Regions from separate parts of the Homo sapiens genome. Here region 1 is linked to region 2. The links come from fine-mapping of genetic effects on gene expression. Tissue or cell type: whole blood. Region 2 holds a variant in brackets; the other region holds the start of a gene. All regions are shown on one strand. Distances are from middle to middle.

The links. PIP is the estimated chance that this variant, and not a neighbour inherited with it, causes the effect.
Region 1: it holds the start of SEL1L3, and the variant in region 2 is fine-mapped to the expression of SEL1L3 in whole blood (INTERVAL, PIP 0.97).

Annotation. Positions count from the first base shown.
Region 1 is chr4:25,861,368-25,865,492 of GRCh38, reverse strand. It overlaps SEL1L3 (SEL1L family member 3), which reads left to right and starts at 2,505. Exons shown (of 24, transcript NM_015187.5): 1 at 2,505-2,818. The coding sequence starts at 2,657. LOC102723733 (a long non-coding RNA gene) reads right to left here. Exons shown (of 2, transcript XR_427503.5): 1 at 3,340-4,125. LOC124900688 (a long non-coding RNA gene) reads left to right here. Exons shown (of 3, transcript XR_007058092.1): 3 at 87-285. RefSeq lists silencers at 2,272-2,431, 2,482-2,941, 3,212-3,506.
Region 2 is chr4:25,777,604-25,781,862 of GRCh38, reverse strand. It overlaps SEL1L3 (SEL1L family member 3), which reads left to right. Exons shown (of 24, transcript NM_015187.5): 16 at 2,660-2,787. Among named protein-coding and RNA genes, the nearest start is that of SEL1L3, 83 kb to the left of the region's middle. The variant C/T (reference allele first, on the strand shown) is at 2,632.

The DNA.
Region 1 (4,125 bases), 84 kb before region 2:
AGAGCTGATTCTGTCTTCTGGATCAAAACGTCCCACTCCCCCGTGAAAAGAAATCTTGACTTTTTCTCTCCCCCTCTCCAACACAGGATGAAGCAGTTAATCCCACCACCTCTAGCTCAGGATGAGAGAGCAACTCACACATCCCTCTTAGAAGACCAAACTCTGGCCGGTTTTCTGCATGCCTGGTGCTCCTTGCAGAAACAGAGCCTTCCTGCCTACCTCTGGAATCCTGGGGCCTCAGGTGGTGCCCAGTCCACAGTAGGAACACAATAGGAGATGAGTGAGTAGGGGAGAAGTGAGCAGTTGGATATGGCAAGTTAGAAACAGTCCAGCCTCCAGTGGGGCACTCTGCTTACCTACACTTAGGTAAACCCAAATCCTCAAAGCTCACAAGGCCTTGAAAACTCCCAATTCCATGAATCCTGATTACAAACAACCCCGAGGAACCATTTAGCTCCCCGAAGACCAACAGAATCTGTGTACAATGTGGGAGGAGAGAAACTCCGGAGCGTGGCCCAGGAAGACAGGTGGCAACCCTAGAAATGCTGCAATGCCTGTTGAAGCCCCTTCCCCCTGAACTGGCCGACAATTTTCCTTCCATATACATTAAAAGCATAGTCTGTATTTTGACCTGATGGAAAAGATATAGACAGGATCTGGGACAAAGCCACCAAATCTTTTGTTCCCTTGGACACTCGATAGAATAAATGTTTTCCACGTCACACAGAAGAATGTTAAGTGCTTTGTTTCTGCAGAAGTGGAACAGAGATAGTGGGAGCATCTGTCAAAACCCCCAAAATGCTTTAATGTGGTGGCAGCTGGCTGGGAGGAGCAGGAGCCCAGTTCCCTAAAAGCCAATAGTTCTGGAAATGGAGGAGGGCTGTTTGAACCAGCGCGTTAACATCACCCAGGAGCTTGTTAGAAAGGTACATTCTCAAGTCCCTCCCAGGACCAACTGAGTCAGAAATTCTAGGGCTGAAGTCCAGGAATCTGTGTTTTAACAATCCCTCCAGGTAATTCTGAAGTTTGAGAACCGGTGGAATAAGGCCAGGGAACTCACACAAGGCCACAGCTCTTAGGTGACCTAAAAAAAAGTGGACGACAGCTGAGGAGCCACCATGCCTGGTGTGGCCAGGCCTGTACTGAAGCAGCTGAGGGCGCGTCCACGCCCGTCAAACCATCCCGGGCACCCCGTCTCACCACCAGCCTCTCCCCGACGTCTGTTGTGACTTGACCTATGCTCGTGGCACAGGGAAAGGGCTGTGGCCTCTCAGGCTCCCAGGCTATTATTAGTTCCAATCCGCACAAATCTACCAGTGCTAAAGGGAAGCTTCTGCGAACTTTGGAAGGTGGATTAACTGTTTCAGAGCAGCAGCTGCGGGCCCAGATAGTTGTCGGAGCCGCTAGACACAGCCAAGCGCTTCCCTGAAAGCCAAGGCCGGCGGCGAGCTGGTGGTCCCGCCGGCCGGAGGCCCCTCCCCGCCAGGCCGCAGAACCCGGGTCGGAGAGCAGCCAGTCTCAACCTGCGTCCCCAAGGCCGAGGATGTGTCCTGGTTTTTTAAAAAGCTGTTTGCGCACTTCCAGGGCCTCACCCCTTTCATTTGGGGCTCCAGTATTACTGTATTGACCTAATTAATTCATTTTTTTCTCAGTCCAAAGTGGAAGCCGGAGCACAGGGATGCAAATCAAATACAAACCCGTCCTGGGTGCCAATACTCTGGACAATTAAAACAAAGAGCGCAGTGGTGGCGGTGGCGGCGGCACCACACAAAACCCTCGGGAAACATCCAGAACGTGCCGCGAACCAGCCGGCAGGGTGGGGCGCAGCCCGGCTGCAAACATGCCAGCAAGGAGGCAGTCCCAACCCCGCAGGTGGACAGGTGGAGGTTGGCAGGGGTCAAAATCCATCCTGAAGGCCTGGGAGCCGGGCAGCTGCGCGGCACAACTCCAGGGGGCACACTCGCCCTGCGCCCTGCGGGAATGGCGCCCCGGCCAAAAAAGCAACCAGACAAAAACCCATTGCACGGGCGGGAACTGGTCTGTGCGACCCGCAAAAGGGGTGGGTGGGAGAGGAAGAATGCGGAAGCGAGGAAGAGGATGGGAAGGGAGAAAGAGGAAAGGGAGGAAAAGGAGAAAGTGAAAAAGAGAGGGGGTTTGGGAGCGCGAGGGGAGAAGGAAGAGGGAGCCGGAGGGAGAGGAGGGGGATCGCAGAGAGCAGGAGCGCGGAAGGGGGGCGGGGGAGGAGCAGAGAGAAAGGGAAAGGGGGGTGCGCCGGGGCCCAGCGACCCGGGCGGGGGGTGGCGGCGGCCAAGGGGCGGGACCCGGGTCGGTGCCCACCTGCGTGGGCGCCCGCTGCTCCGAGGGGTGGAAGCCCGGGGGCCAGAGGGAGCGGCCGGGAGGAGGGCTGGGCAGGGAGGCAGAGGGGAGGGAGGGGACGGGGACGGGGAGGCGGGGAGGAGCCGGCGCTCGGCTGGGGCTGCGGGGGCGGCGACGGCGGGAGCGGCAGTGGCGGCGGCGGCGGGTCCGGAGGTGGCGGCAGGTGGCCCCGCGCGCGGCGGCCGGCCCGGCCGGGGGCGGGCGGGAAGGTGGCGCCTCGGGCGGGGGCCGGTCCCTGCACCAGGTGACCTGTTCCGGCCCGGATCCGGGCGGCCTCGCCATGCAGCGGCGCGGCGCGGGGCTCGGGTGGCCGCGGCAGCAGCAGCAGCAACCCCCGCCGCTCGCGGTCGGCCCCCGGGCCGCAGCCATGGTCCCGAGTGGCGGCGTCCCCCAGGGCCTCGGCGGCCGCTCTGCCTGCGCGCTGCTCCTGCTCTGCTACCTGGTGAGCGCCGGACCCTGCCCGGGTCTTCCCCTCCGCGCGGGGCCCCGGGGACGCGGGTGGGGGCGGCCGGGGACACCCGCCACGCGGGGCGGGGACGCCGCTGCTAGTTTTCTCTCTTCCTCGTCGCTGCGCCCCGGGCGTTCCCGGCACCTGGGATAGGTACCCCGGGCGTGGAGAGGGGCGCTTGGACCGGACTTGCCAAGCTGCTCTCTCGCTCGTGCTCATTCCTTTCCCTCCTGGACTCTCTCTAGACCCGGGTCGGGTTACCCTCGAGACCCCTTCTTGTCCTCGACTCCACCCGGGAGCCTCGCCGCCCGGAGTTCGCTCCCCGCCCCGCCGCGCGCAGTCTCCAGCACCCCCCAACCCCCCACCCCTCCTGGGCTTCCCTCTCAATCTTCTCGCAGCTCCTTTCCTTCCCGTGCCCAACTTCGCCTCTTACTCTCGGCGCCCGCCACCCGCGTCGACCCTCCTTTTAGTTTCCACCGGGTCCTCCCGGCCCGGACAGTTTTCTGCCAACGCACCTCGCATCTCCAGCGCTCTTCAACTCCTCCTTGGTCACTCCAGCCAAGTTGCGGATGCCGGAAAGAAATCTAGTTCTCTGTAACACGCTTACCGCCAGAGTGGTGACTTTAGCTGCGTCTTGAACATTGTCATTTCAGAGAATATGTTTGGCTCATGCATGTCAGTTTGCAATTTGCACACTTCTTGGCTTCTGTTTTAGTCATCAACTAAAGGGCAGTAACCTATTTTTCAAAACCCATTTATTTTAAATACCAGAGTAGCTGAGACCCCTCAGAACAAAGTGGGGAGAAATTTTCTCAGTTCCTTTGAGGGCTTGCTTGCTTCTGTTTTGAGTTCTCCTAAACAATAGTAAATTTACAGAAGGCGACACCCTTCCTGCCCAGAGTAACTTATGTTCCACAATCCTGCAGAAACCTTGGGTTATCTCGCCATATATTACTGTAAATAAATGAAATGGAAAATGCTGAATCATGAAACTGATGTAATAGGAAATTCACAGAATGCCAAAAAAAAAAAAAAAAAGAGCAGTGTCATTGTCCAGAATTCATTTCACTTATGTGGCATTGTCATTATTTGGAGTCTTTCTTTTTGGAAGCTAAAAACTGCTTAGGAGATACTGGCAGAAATTAGAATTTGATTCTGAAGAAATTTGCCACTCAGCCCGTTTCTTTTAACGTTTTTTACTTCTTGAATGTTTCATTTCTTGAAGCAAGAAGGTGTAAAAATGCAAATTATAATTCTGCCTGTGCATCTACCTGTTGAGCAATCCGTGCTTTTACTCATAT
Region 2 (4,259 bases):
CCTGGTGTGAAACCAGTTTTAATAATAATGAAAACACAATGGCAATCTTTAGTGTTGATTAAGCATTTCCTCTGTGCCAAGCACCATGCAAAACACCCTACCATGTGCCCTCTTATGTAATCCTAATTCTCCTCTGAAATAGCTATTAATACTCTGGTTATGTCCATTTTTCAGACAAGTGACTGAGGTTCTGCGAAGTTAAGTAACGTAGGGTCACACACTTAGTGGAGTGAGGACCTGGCCTAGTGCACAGTGGAAGCCCACTCTATTAATAATAATGTTGATAATAAAAATCGTTAAAAATAAAAACGATTCTCATGCCTCAGCCTCTGGAGTAACTGGGATTACAGGCGTGCACCACCACGCCTGGTTAATTTTTGTATTTTTAGTAGAGATGAGGTTTTGCCATGTTGTCCAGGCTGGTCTTGAACTCCTGGCCTCAAGTGATCCGCCCACCTCCACCACCCAAAGTTCTGGGATTACAGGTGTGAGCCACTGTGCCTGGTCCTGAGCTCCGCTACATTTAACAAAATGTGGTGAATACCCACCCAGTGCCAGGCACCCTTCTGAACACTGAGGACATAGTAGCAGGCAAAACAGTCCCTGATCTTATGAAGCTTTCATTCCACCAGATGGAAAAGACAATAAACAAATAAATATATAATAGGAGGGGAGGTGAAGATCAGTGCTATGCAGAGAACTAAAACAAGTTCAGGAGGGCTGAGAGTGGTGGTTCACACCTGTAATCCCATCACTTTGGGAGGCTGAGGCAGGCAGATCACTTGAGCTCAGGAGTTCAAGACCAGCCTGGCCAACATTTTAAAACTCCGTCTCTAAAAATACAAACCCTCATCACTAAAAATACAGAAATTATCCAGGTGTGGTGGTGCATGCTTGTAATCTCAGGCACTCGAGAGGCTGAGGCAGGAGAATCACTGGAACCCCGGAGGCAGAGGTTGTAGTGAGCTAAGATTGTGCCACTGTACTCCAGCCTGAGCGACAGAGCAAGACTCCATCTCAAAAATATATATATATATAAAATATATATATATTATTTATATATATTTTATTTATGTGTATTTTATTTTTTATTTATATATAGTTTATATATAATTTTTTATTTATATATATTATTTATATATTTTATATATATGTAGGATGAGGGGGTGGAGATTGGGAAATGCTATTTTATAAGGGAAACCAGGGAACCAAGGAAGGCCTCTCTCATAAGGTGATATTGTATAGACTCCTAAAGGAATCTTACAGATATCTAGGAGAACATTCCAGAAGGAAGGAGCAGGCAGTGCAAAGGCCCTGAGAAGGAAGCAGGCTTGGTGTGCTAGAGGAGCAGCAGGGAGGCCAGGGGAGTGGAGTGGAAAGCAGAAGAGATGGAGAGGGTGGGAGATAGGACCAGGGAGGAAGCCGACCAGTCTGAGACTCAGTTTCTGCTCTGAATGAAATGGGAAACCACTGGGCAATGTTCAATGGGGCAACGATGGGCTGTATTTTAAAAGGTTCCTCCTGGATCCTGCCTACCGGAGACATGGACAGGAGCAGGGGGTTCATGCATTGGATCCAAGTGAGAGAGGGCAGTGGGCGAGACCAGGGCAGTGTCAGTGGAGGGGCTGAAACTGGGTTCTACATGTATTTGGAAGGTCGAGGCAGCAGGATTTGCTGAGGGGTTGAATGTGGGGTGTGAGAGGTGGAGAAGAGTCAGGGGTGACTCCAAGGTGTTTGGCATTTGTTGCGTTGGAAGAATGGAAGTGGCATTTATTGGGAGGAACAAGATTGTGGCAGCAGCAGATTTGGGGGTAGGAGGGGAAGAATTGGAAGATTATTCTTTTTGAAGCACTGTGCTAAACCTTGAGAATGTGTTATCTCATTTAATCCTTACAACAACCCTTCACTCTAGGTGCTATCTGAAGGCACATTTTTTAGTGGAAGGAAATTAGGTTTGGAGAGATTAACCAACATGCCCAAGTCCACACAGCTAGTAAGGAGCAGAGTTGGGATTTGAACCAAGCCTGCCTAACTTCAACACCCATGCTTTCAAAAAACAATAGCCAACTGCCTCAGAAAAATAAGAGTAATCTGTGGAAATATACCCATCTACATGTTTGTCTTATTTTTTCCCTCTACCTGTCTCTGATGACATAAGAGGCAGTATATTTTTATGCATAGCAAATGTGTGCTAACCCTCCCAAGACATCTGTGAGTGAAGATTTCTTATTGTCACATTCTAATTCTCACCTTCCTACTGGAAATGCAGTTTTCGCACATGAGTTTGAAGAAAGGTATTAAGCAGGGTTAGGAAAGCAAATGCCTGGATTTTCACCTGGTTTGACTTCTGATATAGTCTTCTATCTAGCCTTCAGGGGGTTATGTGAGGATCAAATGAGATGGCAATGGTATTCATAATTACATGTTGTCTTATTTATTGGGTAAACTTAATCAACAGAATAGATGAGGCAAGGTCATACATCTCAGAGGCTGACTTCTGTGATTGGCTGTCTTCCTGGAATTGTTGCTTGCCCTGGTTTTAAAGCTATCAGAAGTTATAAGCCTGTAATCATATCAGGCTTAAAGCATCTCATCACCTTGTCTCTGGCGAAACCAGCCCAGCTAGGATGA[C/T]TCGATGTTTGTTCATCTCTTGTTACAGACTTTAGCTGGTGAATATTTCCATAAGGCTGCGCAAGGTGGACACATGGAAGGGACCTTGTGGTGTTCTCTCTACTATATCACAGGCAACCTGGAGACATTCCCTAGAGATCCTGAGAAAGCTGTTGTGTAAGACTCTGTCAAACGTTGCATTTGAAGGGAAAGCCATATCCTATATTCTCTGTGCCTGAGCATTTTTTAAGTTGAGTTCTTTATTTTTACCAGTTGTACATGCATGTAGTTTTAAAAGTCATGTAATTTGACAAGACAAAATTAAAACTTTTAATTAAAAATTTAAAAATAATTTGACAAAGGCTAAACAAGAAATCCTTGCCTACCTCACTTCATCCCACCCCTAGACTCTATTTTCTGCTCCCTAGAATGAATCACTTTCAATCTTTTTTGAAAGATTTATTTTATTTTATTTATTTTTTATTTGTCTCTATTTCTAAATAACATGCTTATACCACTATTTCTTGGTATTTTCATCCGAGGCATTGTCTAATGATGTCCCACTGCGAAGGATAAAGATGTAGTTTTCTTTGACTCTGCCACCTCCCACTACTCAGCTCACTCATACTTCCTGCCATCTTTCATCTTCCCAATAAGTATATCATTTTGGTTACATTAGTATCAGGGTTTACATTATTATGACCATGTAAATGCTATTTCTAACTGAACCATGTAGTATACTCTGATTACTTTTCCTTTCTTGCACAACTTTTTCTTTTCTATGGATTGCTACTTATTTTTTATTGTTTATTTGCTAAGCTTTCTGTATACTTATCATTTTCTATGTATTTGATCTCCAAATTCTCCTCCAGGTGCCTGAATTTCCTCTTGGTATGTCCAGACCTATCTAAATATTATATTAATTTAACCTTCTTGGTGACATCCATCCTGGAGTCTTTGTTCAGGACAATGCTGTCATGCTGAGATTAACTGTCATCATTATGGGTATTTACTTTCCCTCCATCTGTGTCTTTTTTGGTTCTCTTCTTTGTCAGACCCCTTTCTTTCTCTTTCTTGGTCTGCACTTAAATTTTGGTGGAGCACATCCAATAGTAGGTTCCTGAGGTATGGTGAATGGGAGGCACATTTTTGAGGTCTTGCAGATCTGAAAATGTTTTACAGGAGTTGTCAAACCATGACCCATAGATGAAATGTAGCTTGGTACCTGTTTTGTATGGCTCCAAGAGCTAAGAATGCTTTTTACATTCTTGAGGAGTTATAAAACAAATAAAGAAGAATATGCAACAGAGACTATATGTGGCCCACAAAGCTTAAGATATTTACTATCCTGCTCTTTACAGAAAAAGTTTGTCGACCTCTGTTTTAGGCCACCCTCACACTGATACCCTGGCTCTCCAAAAGATTGTTCTTCATAACACATTTGGGTTCAAATTCAACCTGACCTGACCTTGGTGATAAACTTGACTTAGACTGACTTGAAGTTTTTTATCATTGTTATTTAGTATATTTGACATGAATATTCATGTTTTGTGGATTTTCTGTTATCCTCTTGTTAATGATTTCTAGCTTAATTTCACTGTGATCAGAGAATATATTCTGAATGATTCCAATCCTTTGAAATTTGTCAA